Linked DNA regions of Homo sapiens: region 2 is linked to region 1. Evidence: fine-mapped expression QTL. Tissue or cell type: cerebellar hemisphere. Region 1 holds a variant in brackets; the other region holds the start of a gene. All regions are shown on one strand. Distances are from middle to middle.

Evidence for each region. PIP is the estimated chance that this variant, and not a neighbour inherited with it, causes the effect.
Region 2: it holds the start of ANKRD24, and the variant in region 1 is fine-mapped to the expression of ANKRD24 in cerebellar hemisphere (GTEx, PIP 0.95).

The regions. Positions count from the first base shown.
Region 1 is chr19:3,883,051-3,891,305 of GRCh38, reverse strand. ATCAY (ATCAY kinesin light chain interacting caytaxin) reads right to left here. Exons shown (of 13, transcript NM_033064.5): 2 at 5,462-5,579. The coding sequence starts at 5,538. Among named protein-coding and RNA genes, the nearest start is that of ATCAY, 6.5 kb to the right of the region's middle. The variant A/G (reference allele first, on the strand shown) is at 3,785.
Region 2 is chr19:4,178,118-4,186,117 of GRCh38, reverse strand. It overlaps ANKRD24 (ankyrin repeat domain 24), which reads right to left and starts at 3,429. Exons shown (of 22, transcript NM_001393985.1): 1 at 3,378-3,429. It overlaps SIRT6 (sirtuin 6), which reads left to right and starts at 3,555. Exons shown (of 8, transcript NM_016539.4): 1 at 3,555-3,644; 2 at 5,209-5,336; 3 at 6,832-7,014. The coding sequence starts at 3,579. RefSeq lists enhancers at 3,372-3,421, 3,492-3,581.

The DNA.
Region 1 (8,255 bases):
CCGAGGCAGGCGAATCACTTGAGGTTAGGAGTTCGAGACCAGCCTGGCCAACATGGTGAAACCCTGTCTCTAACGAAAATACAAAAATGAGCCAGGCATGGTGGTGCGTACCTGTAATCCCAGCTACTTGGGAGGCTGAGGCAAGAGAATTGCTCGAAACCAGGAAGTGGAGGTTGCAGTGAGCTGAGGTTGCACCACTGCACTCCAGCCTGGGTGATACACTGAGACTCTGTCTCCAAAAAAAAAAAAAAAAGTGCTAGAAGGGCAGAGGCCATGCAGGGCTCTGTCTGACACCCTTAAGGGCAGTACAAAGACCACTTCTGCAGTCCCCAGGGGAGGGGATGGCTGGGCTGGAAGAAACAGAATTGTGAGCTGTTTTGCGGCAGACAGAGGTGGTTATGTGTGGCCGCAGCTGGACCTGCACCGAGGAGCCGACTCAGTTCTTCCAGAGACGAGGAAGACAGAAGCCTCGTGGAGGAAGTGTCCTGTTGGCAAAGGCGTAGCTCGTGGGGGCCAGGCTGGCACAGCGAGGCCACTGTCCTGCAAACACAAAGCTGCTGCAGCGGGTGGGCGAGAAGCCTTGCAGCTGTAAGAAATCCACCAGAAACACACCCTCCTCCCGCTCCCGCTGGCCTCGCGCCTTCCAGAAAGGGCCTCCAGCTTGCATTTGCAGGTGCGCTCGGCCTTGGTTTTTGTCTCAAGAAGGCTTGGGTGAGATGAGAGCTTTTAAAATTATCGGTGGAGGCCGGGTGTGGTGGCTTGCGCCTGTAATCCCAGCACTTTGGGAGACCGAGGTAGGCGGATCACTTGAGGTTGGGAGTTCGAGACCAGCCTGGCCAACATGGTGAAACCCCGTCTCTACCAAAAATACAAAAATTAGCTGGGTGTGGTGGTGTGTGCCTGTAATCCCAGCTACTCGGGAGGCTGAGGTGGGAGAATTGCTTGAACCCGGGAGGTGGAGGTTGCAGTGAGCCGAACTCGCGCCACTGCACTCCAGCTTAGGTGACAGAGTGAGACTTTGTCTGCAAAAAAAAAAAAAAAAAAAAAAAAAAAAAAAATTATAGGTGGAGCTGGGCCCAATGGCTCACACCTGTAATCCTAGCACTTTGGGAGGTGGGCAGATCACCTGAGGTTGAGAGTTCGAGACCAGCCTGGCCAACACGGTGAAACCTCGTCTCTACTAAAAATACAAAGATGAGCTGGGCGTGGTGGCAGATGCCTGTAATCCAGCTACTTGGGAGGCTGAAGCAGGAGAATCACTTGAACCCAGGAGGTGGAGGTTGCAGTGAGCTGAGATGGCGCCACTGCACCCCAGCCTGGGTGACAGAGCGAGACTCTGTCTCAAAAAAAAAAAAAGAAAAGAAAAGTAAAGAAATAAAAAAAAATCAGTAGGGGGAAAGGGAGCTAAGCTAATAATAGTAATAACGCTGGAGATGATTATTTATTTGTGCTGCCTTCGCCATTTGCACAGCCCATCTCGGCTGTTTTATCAAAATTTCATGACCACCTGGTGCGCGAGAGATTATTGTCCTATTTTACAGATCAGAAAACAGAGGCACTGAGATGCCCAAAGAGGTAGCCCAGGTGGCAGAGCAAACCTGCTGGGGAATTGGGATTTGAACCATGGGCGTCCGATTCCAAAGCTTATGCGCCTTTGTTTATGCTGTGCTGCTTGAAATGACATTATTTTAAAATTATTATTATTTTTCTTAGATATGCAGTCTTGCTCTGTTGTCCAGGCTGGAGTGCGGTGGTGTGATCATAGCTCACTGCTGCGATGTCCCAAGTCCAAACAATCCTCCTGCCTCAGCCTCCTGAGTAGCTGAAACTACAGGTGCACACCAGCATACCTGACTAATTTTTTTTTATTTTTTATTTTTATTTATTTATTTTGAGACGGAGTCTCACTCTGTCGCCCAGGCTGGAGTTCAGTGGTGCGATCTTGGCTCACTGCAACCTCCGCCTCCCGCGTTCAAGCGATTCTCCTTCCTCAGCTTCCCGAGTAGCTGGTATTACAGGCATGGGCCACCACGCCCGGCTAATTTTGTATTTTTAGTAGAGACGGGGTTTCTCCATGTTGGTCAGGCTGGTCTCAAACTCCTGACCTCAGGTGATCTGCCAGCCTTGGCTTCCCAAAGTGCTAGGATTATAGGTGTGAGCCACTAGGCCCAGCCAGTTTTTGTTTGTTTTTTGTTTTTTTAAGAGACGAGGTCTTGCTATGTTGCCCAGGCTAATCTCAAACTCCTGGGCTCAAGCGATCCTCCCGCCTTGGCCTCCCAAAGAGCTGGGATTACAGACATCAGCCTCCGCTCCCAGCCGTGATTCTCTGATTCTCGGCTATTCTGAGAACAGGGACCTCCTGCTGCAAAGAAACACAGACAGGTGCATGGGCCTTAGAGGCCTGGCAATGACTGGATTCAGGAGAGGGCTGAAGTTCTTGAATATCAAGATGCCGTCTTCAACAGTCCTCCTTCTGCCTGGACATGAATGGGAAGGAAGCTCTCGGCCTCCCACACCAGCCTGACTCATTTTGAAGGAGACCGATTACTTCAAGGCATTCTTCTGTATCTCCTTCAAACCCCATTCTCTTTTAAGTTCGTTCTTTTGGCCTCGTTCTGCCCTCCGGAACCCTCTCAGATTGAAATTTTCCTGGAACTGGAGATTCTGTTTTTTTGAGACACTCTCACTCACTCTACTGCCCGGGCTGGAGTCCAGTGGCGCGATCTCGGCTCACTGCAACCTTCGCCTCCCGAGTTCCAGCAGTTTTCCTGCCTCAGCCTCCTGAGTAGCTGGGATTACAGGTGCCCACCACCACGCCCGACTAATTTTTGTATTTTTAGTAGAGACGGGGTTTCACCATGTTGTCCAGGCTGGCCTCGAACTCCTGACCTCAAGTGATTTGCCCGCCTCGGCCTCCCAAACTGTTGGGACTGCAGACGTGAGCCACTGTGCGCGGCCTGGAGATTCTTTTCCAATTCTCTTTTTCAGGCGGAACACACCTGGTCTTTTTGACTGAACCTCACCCAATAGTTTCTATAACTGACCCTTGGGCATTGTGTTTGGGGGATGGATGAATTCCTGGTTCTGAAAGGGAAGAGGGATGAGCAGCTATCTTTAGCCAGCAAATCAGAGTCACACGTCTCAACAGCAAATTCGCACAGCTTCCTTTCCATGTAGTATTTTTTTTTTTTTGAGACGGAGTCTCACACTGTCACCCGGGCTGGAGTGCGGTGGCACATCTCGGCTCACTGCAACCTCTGCCTCCCGGGTTCAAGTGATTCTCCTGCCTCAGCCTCCCGAGTACTGGGGATTACAGGCGTGCACCACCATGCCCAGCTAATTTTTTTTAATTTTTATTTTTAGTAGAGACAGGGTTTCACTATGTCGGCCAGGCTGGTCTCAAATTCCTGACCTTGTGATCTGCCCACCTTGGCCTCCCAAAGTGCTGGGATTACACACACCTGAGCCACAGCGACCGGCCTTTTTTTTTTTTTTCCTCTCTTTTTAAATAGAGACAGGTGGTAGGGCGCGATGGCTCACGCCTGTAATCCCAGCACTTTGGGAGGCCGAGGTGGGCGGATCACGAGGTCAGACGATCGAGACCATCCTGGCTAACATGGTGAAACCCCGTCTCTACTAAAAATACAAAAAATTAGCCGGGCGTGGTGGCGGGTGCCCGTAGTCCCAGCTACTCGGGAGGCTGAGGCAGGAGAATGGCGTGAACCCGGGAGGCGGAGCTTGCAGTGAGCCAAGATCGCGCCACTGCACTCCAGCCTGGGCGACA[A/G]AGCGACACTCTGTCTCAAAAATAAATAAATAAATAAATAAAATAAAAAAAATAAAATAAAATAGAGACAGAGTCTCGCTCTGTCACCCAGACTGGAGTGCAGGGCTGCAATCATGGCTCGCTGCAACCTCTGCCTTCTGGGCTCAAGGGATCCTCCTGTCTCAGCCTGCCAAGTAGCTAAGACTGCAGGTGCACACCACCATGCCCAGCTAATTTTTTTTTTTTTGGTAGAAATGGGGTCTCACTATCTTGCCCAGGCTGGTTTCGAACTCTTGAGCTCTATCAATCCCCCCAGCCTGAGCCTCTGTAAGTGCTGGGATCATAGGCGTGAGCCACCGTGCCCAGCCCCTGTGATTTCTTATTCTGACCAGTGATCAGCACCTGTCACCCAATATTTGTTAAGCGCCGACTGTATGCCAGGCACTATCCTTAGGTTGGGATACAGCAGTGAGCTAAACAAAGACCCCTGCTCTTGTGGCGCTCCGTGTGGTGGGGAGACAGAGTGTAGACAAGATGTCCCTGCAAAATGTTCAGCGTAGGGGCCGGGCGCGGTGGCTCTTGCCTGGAATCCAAGCACTTTCGGAGTTCGAGACTGGCCTGGCCAACATGGTGAAATCCGGTCTCTACTAAAAATAGAAAAATCAGCCAGATGTGGTGGCGGGTGCCTGTAATCCAAGCTACTCGGGGGCATGAGGAAGGAGAATCACTGGAACCCAGGACCTGGAGGTTGCAGTGACCTGAGATCGTGCCACTGCACTCCAGCCTGTGGGACAGAGTGAGACTCAAAAAAAAAAAAAAAAAAGTTCAGCATGTTAGGGGAGGTAAGTGTCTCCTAAAGGCTGCTAATAAATCACCATGGTGCCTCAGCCTCCCGAGTAGCTGGAATTATAGGCGCATGACACCATACCCAGCTAATTTTTTTTTTTTTCTTTTGAGATGGAGTCTCACCTGTCGCCCAGGCTGGAGTGCAGTGGCGCGATCTCGGCTCACTGCAAGCTCCGCCTCCTGGGTTCACGCCATTCTCCTGCCTCAGCCTCCCGAGTAGCTGGGACTACAGGCGCCTGCCACACACCCGGCTAATTTTTGTATTTTTAGTAGAGATGGAGTTTCACCATGTTAGCCAGGATAGTTTCCATCTGCTGACCTCATGATCCGCCCGCCTCGGCCTCCCAAAGTGCTGGGATTACAGGCATGAGTCACTGCGCCCGGCATGCCCAGCTAATTTTTGTAGTTTTAGTAGAGACGCGGTTTTGCCATGTTGGCCAGGCTGGTCTCGAACTCCTGACCTCAAGTGATCCGCCCACCTCGGCCTCCCAAAGTGCTGGGATTACAGGCGTGAACCGCCGCGCCCAGCCAGAATGTTAAGAACTCTTAAAATGGTGTAGGGGTGGGGGGTCCTTTGGAGCTTTGGGGCAGGGAAGACAGAAATGAATCTTAAATCATTGAGCAAATACCCATTATGTGCCTGGCCAGGACTACCCCACTGTGAGGCCACAGAGAAGACTCGCACACAGGGCCTCAGGCCTCCCAGAGTGTGCGGGAGAGGAGGACGCGGAGATGGAACCAGGCCAGCCCCGGGCGGTTCCCACTTAGAGAGAGACCCGGGCCGCTCCTGTGTCCCACCTGGGAGAGACACCTGCTCCCCCAACGGTTGACTCAGGGATGTGGAAGTCCTACCTGGGAAGATCTTCGTCCTGCCATTCCTCCTTCACGTCCACGTTTTCCATCCGGAGCGTGGCTTCGGTGGTCCCCATGGGAGCTGGGAAGAGGCACTGGCTTGAAGCAGGGATGACCCCTGAAAGGAAGCCGCAGAGGAATGGGTTTTACTGGACAATAGTCCTAATGACAATCGTCTACCCCATGCAGCTCTTCCCCCTCCCACTCCCCCTCCGTCTCCCCCTCCCCCTTCCCCTCCCCCTCTCTCCTTTCTCCTCTCCTCTCTCCTTCTCCTTCTTCTTCTTCTTTTTTGAGACGGAGTCTTGCTCTGTTGCCCAGGCTGTAGTGCAATGGTGCCATCTCAGCTCACTGCAACATCCACCTTCCAGGCTCAAGCGATTCTCCCGCCTCAGCCTCCCAAGTAGCTGGGGTTACAGGCACCCATCACCACGCCTGGTTAATTCTTGTATTTTTAGTAGAGACAGGGTTTCGCCATGTTGGCCAGGCTGGTCTCGAACTCCTGACCTCAGGTGATCCTCCTGCCTTGGCCTCCCAAAGTGCTGGGATTACAGGCTTGAGCCATCACACCCGGCTAATTTTTGTATTTTTAATAGAGACGGGGTTTCACTGTGTTGGCCAGGCTGGTCTCAAACTCCTGAGCTCAAGCGGTCTACCCGCCTCAGCCTCCCAAAGTGCTGGGATTACAGGGGTGAGCCACTGAGCTTGGCTGTTTTTTTTTTTTTTTTTTTTTTTTTTAAAAAAAAAAACATGATCTTGCTCTGTTGCCTGGGCTGGAGTGCAGGGGCACAATCATGGCTCATGGCAGCCTTGAACTCCTGGGCTTAAGCAATCCTCCTGCCTCAGCCCCCCACCAGTAGCTGTGACCACAGGTGTGTACCATCATGCCTGGGTAATTTTTTAAAATCTTTTTTTAAGAGATTGGGTCTTGCTATGTTGGCCAGGGTGGTCTCAAACTCTTGGGCTCAAGCAATCCTCCTGCCTCGGCCTCTCTAAGCGCTGAGATTACAAGGGTAAACCACTGTGCCCGGCCAGCACTTCTTATTGAACCATCACCGAGCCCCATGAGGTTCCCCTGTTTTACAGATGAGAAAACAGAGGCACAGAGAGCTTAGGATGCACAGTGGGGTTCAGAGTTTGAACGTGGGCGAGAGGCTGAGCCTTCAGATACAAGTCCTGCTCCCTTGGAAACTTCGAAATCTACCTTCTCCAGGGTGAGCCATGACCCAGATAGACTTACCCTCCCTCTTGTGCCTTGGACCTCAACTAGAAAGCAAGAAATCCAAACAGTCATTCATACTAAAGTGTGAATGGCTGATATACTTCAGCTTCCGTGCTGGGAATGCCAAGTTCAAAGAGAATCCAGTAGGCTCTAACCCATCGCTATCTGCCATATGTACCAGGCCACCTGTCCTGCCTCTCTGTCCTCCCTCAAGCAAGTCCTAGTGACTTTCTGACTCCAGGGCTCACTAAGGCAGTGTGGAAAGAGACTGGGGTTAGAAAGGAGACCCTCATCTTTACTACCACAAAATGCCACTTTATTTATTTATTTATTTATTTAGAGACGGGGTCTTGCTCTGTCGCCCAGGCTGGAGTGCAGTGGTGTGATCCCAGCTCACTACAGCCTCCAACTCCTGGGCTCAAGCGATCCTCCTGCCTCAGCCTCCCAAGTATCTGGGACCACGAGTGTGTGCCATCATGCCTGGCTAATTTCTCTGATCTTGGTATGTCACCCAGGCTGGTCTTGAACTTTCGGGCTCAGGTGATCCTCTTGCCTCAGCCTCCCAGAGCGCTGGGATTACAGGTGTGAGCCACTGTGCCGCCCCACCCCCCACACCAGTTTTGTTTTTCTTGTTCTGAGGAGCTCACTGGGGGCAGGGGCAGGGGCAGGGCAGGGGGGAGCAGTCTGGGTGGGGGCCAGGATCAGAGCTGCCAGGTGAGACTGAGTTGTGGTCTGCTCTGGGGCATGGCAGACTCTCAGACCATCTCCCTCTCTGGGTCTCAGTTTCCCTTTCTGTAAACAAAAGAGTTGAATTAGAGATGACCTCTAAGATACCTTTTGGACATAACATACCAGCATCTTATGACTCAACCAACCCCATCTGTTTTGGGCTTTGAAACCAGTGCTTTGCACCTGTGGACAATTCTGCCTCCCCTGCTGCAAGGGGACACTTGGCATTGTCTAGAGGCACTTTTGTCACAACTGAGGGGAAGGAGTGCCCCCTGGGCAGGCCAGGGGTGCTGCTCAGCACCTTACAGTGCCCAGGATGGCCGCCCATGACCAAGAATGACTGGGTCCCAAATATCCATAGATCCAAGGTGGAGAAACCTTGTCTTAAAGGCAATAGTCATTTCTGTGTGCATTCCCGTGTTTGCGAAAGGATTTCAGGCCTGTGTCCGGCAGTCATTATAGAGTATTGTACACTCTGTCCTTCCATTACCTCTGTCTGTCTCTCAACAGCTTCCGAGTAGCTAGATCCACTTTTTTTGTTGTCATTTTTTTTTTGAGACAGAGTCTCGCTCTGTCGCCCAGGCTAGAGTGCAGTGGTGCGATCTCGGCTCACTGCAACCTCCACCTCTTGAGTAGCTTGGACTACAGGCGCGTGCCACCACGTCCAGCTAATTTTTGTATTTTTAGTAGAGATGGGGTTTCACTATATTGGCCAGGCTGGTCTCGAACTCCTGACCTCATGATCCACCTGCCTCCCAAAGTGCTGGGATTACAGGTGTGAGCCACCCTGCCGGGCCACTAGATCCACTTTTTAAAGCGTCTAGGGGCTGGGTGCAGTGGTGCATG
Region 2 (8,000 bases), 290 kb before region 1:
AGCCTGGCCAAACATGAGGGGCTTCATAAATGCATCTCACTGGTATTTCCTGCGGTCCAAACAGATCAAGCCTTTTCTGGTCTCCTAACTTTTACCTGTGCAGTTATTTCTGCCTAGAATGGTTTCTTTTTTCTTCTCTGAACTCCTACTCATCCTTCAAAGCCCAGTTCCAAAATCCCTTGCTCTTATCAGCTTTGCCTCTTGTTCCCAAGCAGAGATCTAACTCCCCAAATTGGGTTCCCGCCTACCCTGGCTGGGTCTCTGCCTCTGCCTCACCCCTGGCTCCATGGGCTGGAAGGGTCTGGGCTGATTCTGTCCTTTTCAACAGTCAGGGGCTCCCTGGGGACTGAAGCCAGGGCTGACGGCTCTCAGCACAGAGGCATGTTTGCTACATAGTCAGAGGGAACCTCCATGTGACAGCAATTCACCCATAGTGGGTGGAGGTCTGGGGCAATGGCTGCATGCATGTGTGTGACGTTGAGTGTGGGGCGTGTGCACACGTGCACTTCTGTCCACCTGGGCCTGTTCTACGTTCCGCATGGGCAGGCACGGAGGTCAGGCAGGCCTATCTTGAGGGGGTGTGTTTTTTGAGGGGTGTGACTGTGAGGCCCTATGTGTGAAAGGGATTTCTGTGATGGAGAATCTGTATTTGCCTCTTACCAAGGAGTAGGGGTTGGCATGGCCTCTACCTGTCCACCTATCTACTCGTGAATTCTCCAAGCCACCCTTCCACGCATTTACCACCTATGCACTCACCTGGACATCCATCCTCCCACCTAAGCACTGTATAACCACCCACTGGCCACCACCCACAAACCCACCCACCCAATTCATGTTCTCATGGTTCTTCATCACCCTTTAATCAGATTTCACCCACACATCCATCCACCCACCCAAACACCTACCAACTCCCACCATTCATCCATCCACTCATCCACCCATCCATCCACTTATCCATCCCTTCATCCATCCACCCAACCACCCATCCATCCATCTGCCCAAGCATCCATCCATCCACCCATCTGCCCACCCAATCACACACCCATCCACCCATCCACCCACCCACCCATCCACTCATCCATCCACTTATCCATCCCTCCATCCACCCACCCAACCACCAATCCATCCATCCACCCACCCACCCACCAGTGCATCCATCCACCCACCCACCAGTCCATCCATGGATCCTTCCATCCATCCATCCATCCACTTATCCATCCCTCCATCCATTTGCCCAATCACCCACCCATTCATCCATCCACCCATCCATCCATACATCTACCCATTCACCCATCTACCAAACCACCAATCCACCTATTCGCCCCCCATCCATCCACCCACCCATCCATTCATCTACCCCTCCACCGGTGCCCATTCACTCACTACCTACCCTTTTTTCTTCTACCTCTGACTGGAGGATTCAATCACACCCAAAGCAGGGGGTAATAAGACACCCAACAGAGGAGTTCACAGGCTGCTTGGGAGAAGACAATCCGTGGGCTTGGGGGAGGGAGAAACGCCTGCTAAATTTAGGAAGCTGCTTGCTGGAAGAGGTGATGGTAAATAAGAAGGGCCTGATGGCCGGGTGGGATGTTGAGCACCTGCCTTGGAGGAAGCTAGGCAGGGCACAGGCCGGCAAGTGGGAAGTGCGTGGGTGAACGAGTGCATGTGTGTGTCAGGGTACCTGGGTAGCTCCGCAGCCTGGCTAGGACTCAGCACGGCTTCTTTCTCCCACATACAAGGGCTCAGGGGCCTGGGGCCATAAGGGGATCCTCCGTCCTGGGCCTCTCCCACCTCCTTCCTCCCCTACCTCCTGCAGCTCCAGTGCCCCGAGCTCCCGGCCACAGTGCCCACTGCCGGCTCCGGTTACCCACTCCCAGCTGGGCCACGAGCAGCTCCAGCCGCTCCACTCTGACACCTGATCGGCTCTGAGCAGGCGGCCGCCCCAGGGGGCCGGGGATGAGCCGAGGGAGGAGACAGGCTGGCAGCGGACTGCCTGTTGGCCAACTGGCTCTGGCGGGAAGACACCCACGATCTTCCCTATCATCACTGGACTGATTTCAGTTTCTGGAAGGAGCCATGCTCTTCCTCTTTCTCAGCCTTTGCACTTGCTGTTCCCCCCACCAGGAACATTCTTTCTGTACTTCATGTCACCCCAACCGGCTCTACCTGACTCATGCACTCTTTATTTATTTATTTATTTATTTTTGAGACGGAGTTTCATGCTTGTTGCCCAGGCTGGAGTGCAATGGCGCGATCTCCGGCTCACCGCAATCTCCGCCTCCTGGGTTCAAGCAATTCTCCTGCCTCAGCCTCCCGAGCAGCTGCGATTACAGGCCACCACACCCAGCTAATTTTGTATTTTTAGTAGAGACGGGGTTTCTCCATGTTGGTCAGGGTGGTCTCGAACTCCCAATCTCAGGTGATCCACCTGCCTTGGCCTCCCAAAGTGCTGGGATTACAGGTGTGAGCCACTGCGCCCGGCTCACTCACTTTTTAGATCTTTGCTGCAACATCCCCTCCTCCAGGAAGCCCTCCCGGATGCCCCCAGCCTGGGTCAGGTGCCTCCTGTGAGCCCCCTCACTGCCCTGTGCCCTCTGCATCACCCATTGCACCCCAACCACACCATGTCACCATTACCTGGTCACATGTTTGTGTCCACCCGCAGCCACCAGGGCATAGATGGTACCACCTTTGCTCTCCAGTGTGCCCAGTACAAAGTAGGTACTCAACACATGATTCTTAAATGAGTCCTCCAGGCCACCAGCCCCATTGACCTTGAGCAGGACCTGTCCTGCAGAATGCAGAACCTCCAGTTGGATGATACTCAGATAACTTGGCCGGACGCAGTGGCTCACGCCTGTAATCCCAGCACTTTGGGAGGCCGAGGCGGTCAGATCACCTGAGGTCAGGAGTTCGGGACCAGCCTGACCAACATGGAGAAACCCCGTCTCTACTAAAAAATACAAAAATTTGCTGGGTGTGGTGGCGGGCGCCTGTAATCCCAGCTACTAGGGAGGCTGAGGCAGGAGAATCGCTTGAACCCAAGAGGCGGAGGTTGCAGTGAACCGAGATTGCGCCACTGCACTCCAGCCTGGGCAACAGAGCGAGGCTCCGTCACACACACACACACACACACACACACACACACAAATGAGATATTCAGGTAACTCTGCGTGGCATTCAAAACCCTTAGGCTGGGGTCCCTGCTGTCCGGCTCTGTCCTTACGGAATTTACTAATCCGTAAAAGGGGTTGTGGGGACATGGATAGCCTGTGTCCCGCATTTTAGAGGTGACTGGAGAACTCTCACGTAGGCGGCCGCCCCAATTTCCCGCCCGGGTCATCGGGGAGCCCCTTCCCAAGCCCCGCAAACACCTGCATGCAAAGAGGCAGGCTTCCTTCTGACAGCAGATAACATGTCGCCTGCGGCGTCAGCAAGAGGCGCATGCGCCTTGCCGTGGGAGGCCGGGTGCGCAGGACTGGAACGCGGTTCCTCCTTCTTCCCCGCCCCGCCCCGCTTCCGGCGGAAGCGGCCTCAACAAGGGAAACTTTATTGTTCCCGTGGGGCAGTCGAGGATGTCGGTGAATTACGCGGCGGGGCTGTCGCCGTACGCGGACAAGGGCAAGTGCGGCCTCCCGGAGGTGAGCGCGTCTGAGGGTCCCGAGCATCGCGCCCCAGGGCCGCGGGCTGGGAGCGGCCGGATGGCAGGGGGGCATTGTGGGAATATCAGGGGGCACTGAGGCTAGACAATGGGAGGGACTTCCCAGTGAGGAAGGGGCGGGAAGTGACGCCCCTGCGCGCCGGGGGACGCCAACACGCCCAACTCTGTGGTCACCCTGTCGGGGCTGATCGGGGAGAGAGGGGATGTAGTTCCAGGAAGAGGGGACGACAGGCGCAAAGGGAGGTGGGAATAAACACACCTGGAGAACGATTAGGCCTGGGAGGTTTCCAGAGCCGGGCCAGGACGGGGCTCAAATGCCAGGCTGGGGAGTTGGCACTTTATCCTGAGGGTGATGGGGAAGGGTTTTGCCCTGGCGAGGGGACTGGACAGAATGTGCCAGAAAGATCCCTCCAGCCACTCAGAGGGGAAGTGGAGGGATCGGCTGCCCCCTCCACGCACTGTGGGACTTTGGGGAAGTCACTTCCCTTTTGGGTCTCCATCTCCAAACTTTCTGCAAACGAGGTGAAGATGGCCCCATTCCATAAGGCTGGCCCATGCATTCTGACTCATGCATTTAATGAGCGCTGATGGTGTGCGCCCGTCCAGAAGCCCCACTCTTCACTGCTGCTGTTAGTCACTTTATTATTATTATTATTATATTTTTGAGATGGAGTTTCTCTGTCGCCCAGGCTGGAGTGCAGTGGCGCGATCTCGGCTCACTGCAACCTCCGCCTCCTAGGTTCAAGCGATTCTCCTGCCTCAGCCTCCTGAGTAGAGTAGATGAGACTACAGGCACCTGCCACCACGCCTGGCTAATTTTTGTATTTTTAGTAGAGGCGGGGTTTCACCATGTTGGCCAGTCTGCTCTTGAACTCTTGATCTCAAGTGATCCACCCACCTTGGCTTCCCAAAGTGCTGGGATTATAGGCGTGAGCCACCATACCCGGCCTGTTAGTCACTTTATTCCACCAACATTTATAGAGCACTTACTGTAGCTCAGGCACTTTCTAGGTACTAAGGCCACAGCCAGGAGCAACACAGATTAAAAACCCCTCCTTCTAGTAAGGGAGACTGACTAGGGGTTGCATGGAAACCAGTTGGCCAAGGGAGGCATCACTGTCACTGAAGTGACATCTAAGCCACAAGTTACAGGAGGTGAGGGAGGGAGCCATGTGGGTATCTGGGGGAAGAGCATTAAAGGGTGTGGCCCTGAGGCGGGACTGTGCCTGGTGTGATAGAGGAACAAGGAGGAGACCTGTGTGGCTGGAGCAGAGTGAGGCAGGGAGAGGGAGGAGAAGAGGGCAGGGAGGGGGCAAGGGAGGTAGTGCAGGGCCTGGTGGGCCGTGGGAAGGGCTAGGGCTTTGACAAGGCAGGTGGGAGGCATGGAAGGTTGTAGGAAGAGGAGGGGCATGAGGACAAGCTGCCTTTTCCAATCCATTTTCCTCCCTCAGGCAAGACAGGGACAGCTCAGTCTGTGGCTCGTGCGTGGCCTTGCCACTTGGGGGAACTGTTTTGACCCCTCCGTCTGCTCTCTCCCCCCACAGATCTTCGACCCCCCGGAGGAGCTGGAGCGGAAGGTGTGGGAACTGGCGAGGCTGGTCTGGCAGTCTTCCAGTGTGGTGTTCCACACGGGTGCCGGCATCAGCACTGCCTCTGGCATCCCCGACTTCAGGTCTGTGATTGTGCAGGGGAAGTCGAGGCAAGGCCTACCAGGCTGCCAGAGGCTTCCCTGCGAGCCACACACATCTGGGAATGAGAACACATCCATCTGCTTTCCTCCTGGATGTGTCCTGGGTACTCCCTTTAAGATGTGTCCCTTGGCTGGGCATGGTGGATCACAAGGTCAAGAATTCCAGACCAGCCTGGCCAATATGGTGAATCCCTGTCTCTACTAAAAATACAAAAATTAGCCAGTTGTGGTGGCACACATCTGTAGTCCCAGCTACTCGGGAGGCTGAGGCAGGAGAATTGCTTGAACCTGGGAGGTGGAGGCAGTGAGCCGAGATTGCACCACTGCACTCCAGCCTGGGCGACAGAGTGAGGCTCCGTCTAAAAACAAAACAAAAAGATGTGTCCCTTGTCACAACCAGCATTCCACTCACCTCATTGGCCAGAACACGGTCACCTGATCACACCTGGCTGCAAGGGTTGCTGGGAAATGTAGTCTTTCATATTTGCAAGCGTAGCCAGGTGTGGTGGCAGGCACCTGTAATCGCAGCTACTTGGAAGGCCGAGGTGGGAGAATCGCTTGAACCCGGGAGGCAGAGGTTGCAGTCAGCCAGGATCATGCCATTGTACTCCAGCCTGGGCAACAGAGCCAGACTCCATCTCAAAAAAAAAAAAAAAAAAAAAAAAAAAAAGCCAAGGCGTGAATTTCTCCTCCTTCTCCTCTTCCATAACCTGCTGTGGCTCCCCATTGCCAGGCAGTGTAGAGTTCTGAATACCTTGTGCTGGAAGCTGAAGCCCTTCCTGCCCCAGCCCTGAATCACCTCTCCAACTTCAGCCCCTCCTGCTCCTGCTGCAGCCCCCAAAACACTTGCATTTTCTCCTAAACTCATGGGCTCTTCCCAGCACCCAGGCCTTTGTTTACCCCTTCTGTCTGATCTTCCCTCTCACCCTTCAAGAAACTGCTTAGCCTCCTCCAGGAAGCCCTTCCACGTGCCCCAGGGCCCCCACCTCCACGGGGCTTCCCCAGGCCCAGGTACCTCCTCTGATCCAGGCTTGACTCTTGGGGCCAGAGGATCTGTGTCCACCTGTCTCCCCCAAGATCAAGGGCTTCTGGAGGGCAGGGCTTGGGCCCATGTGAGCATCGTCGGGCTCATTGCAGCAGCAGTGTTGGTTGAATAGAATAAGTCATTTTTGCCTTCGTGTGAATTCATCTCTCTCTCTCTGCCTCTCCCTCTCTCTGTCTCTCTCCAATTCTGTCTCTGACTTGCTTTGTCTTTAACTCTTTATCTCTCTGTCTGTGTCTTGTTCTATCCCCCTCTCCCTGTTCTTGCAACTCACCCTCTATTTCTGTTTCTGATTCCCTCTCTCTGTCTCCCTGTCTCTCTCTGTCTCCTGATTTTCTCTCTCTCCAACTTTCTCTCTATACCTCTCTGATTCTCCCTCTGTCTCTTTTTCTGTTCCCCTCTCCCCGTCCATCTCTCCCGGCCTGCCACCTTCAGGGGTCCCCACGGAGTCTGGACCATGGAGGAGCGAGGTCTGGCCCCCAAGTTCGACACCACCTTTGAGAGCGCGCGGCCCACGCAGACCCACATGGCGCTGGTGCAGCTGGAGCGCGTGGGCCTCCTCCGCTTCCTGGTCAGCCAGAACGTGGACGGGCTCCATGTGCGCTCAGGCTTCCCCAGGTAACACCCTGGCCCCGCCCCCACAAAAGAGCTTGGGGCCCCACAAACCGTGTTTGCATTTTTAGGGGGAGAGTCCCCTTTTCCTGGTTCTATAAGATTCTAGCCCTGAGTTCTTGGCCCAGTGTGTGGAGATCTCTGAGTCCCATGGCTCAGAGCTGTCCCGGCTGAGGCCAGAGGCAGAATTTCCCTCGAGATGGGGCTAAGGGGAGGAGAGCTGTCAGGGTCTAGAAGTTGCAGTTTGTTTTTTGTTGTTGTTGTTGTTTTTGAGACCGAGTTTCGTTCTTGTTGCCCAGGCTGGAGTGCAATGGCGTGATCTCCGCTCAGCCTCCCAGGTTCAAGCGATTCTCCTGCCTCAGCCTCCCTAGTAACTGGGATTACAGGCATGCGCCATCACACCCAGCTAATTTTGTATTTTTAGTAGAGACGGGGTTTCTCCATGTTGGCCAGGCTGGTCTTGAACTCCTGACCTCAGGTGATCTGCCCGCCTCAGCCTCCCAAAGTGCTGGGGTTACAGGTGTGAGCCACCACGCTTGGCCTGTTGTGTTTTTAATATCCATCTTTATTAATCTGACACTAAACGTGTCTGACACTGAAGTGAACCTGTGCTCTGGGGCAGGCTGATTTCCCAATAAAAGTGTGGCCCTCCCCTGCCCCTCTTTGCCAGGTCTCACCCCTGGGGCAACCAATGACAGCCAGGTCAGTTGTTGAGACGAGGAGCTCGGCAGCCAGGGGTGAGGGGTGAGGAAGAGATTTTTCTCTGCTTATAAAAGCAAACGAGGGGCCGGGCATGGTGGCTCACATCTGTAATCCCAGCACTTTGGGAGGCCGAGGCAGGCGGATCACGAGGTCAAGAGTTCGAGACCAGCCTGGCCAACATGTTGAAACCCCATCTCTACTAAGAGTACAAAAATTAGCTGGGCGTGGTGGCGCATGCCTGTAATCCCAGCTACTCGGGAGGCTGAGTCAGGAGAATCGCTTGAACCCGG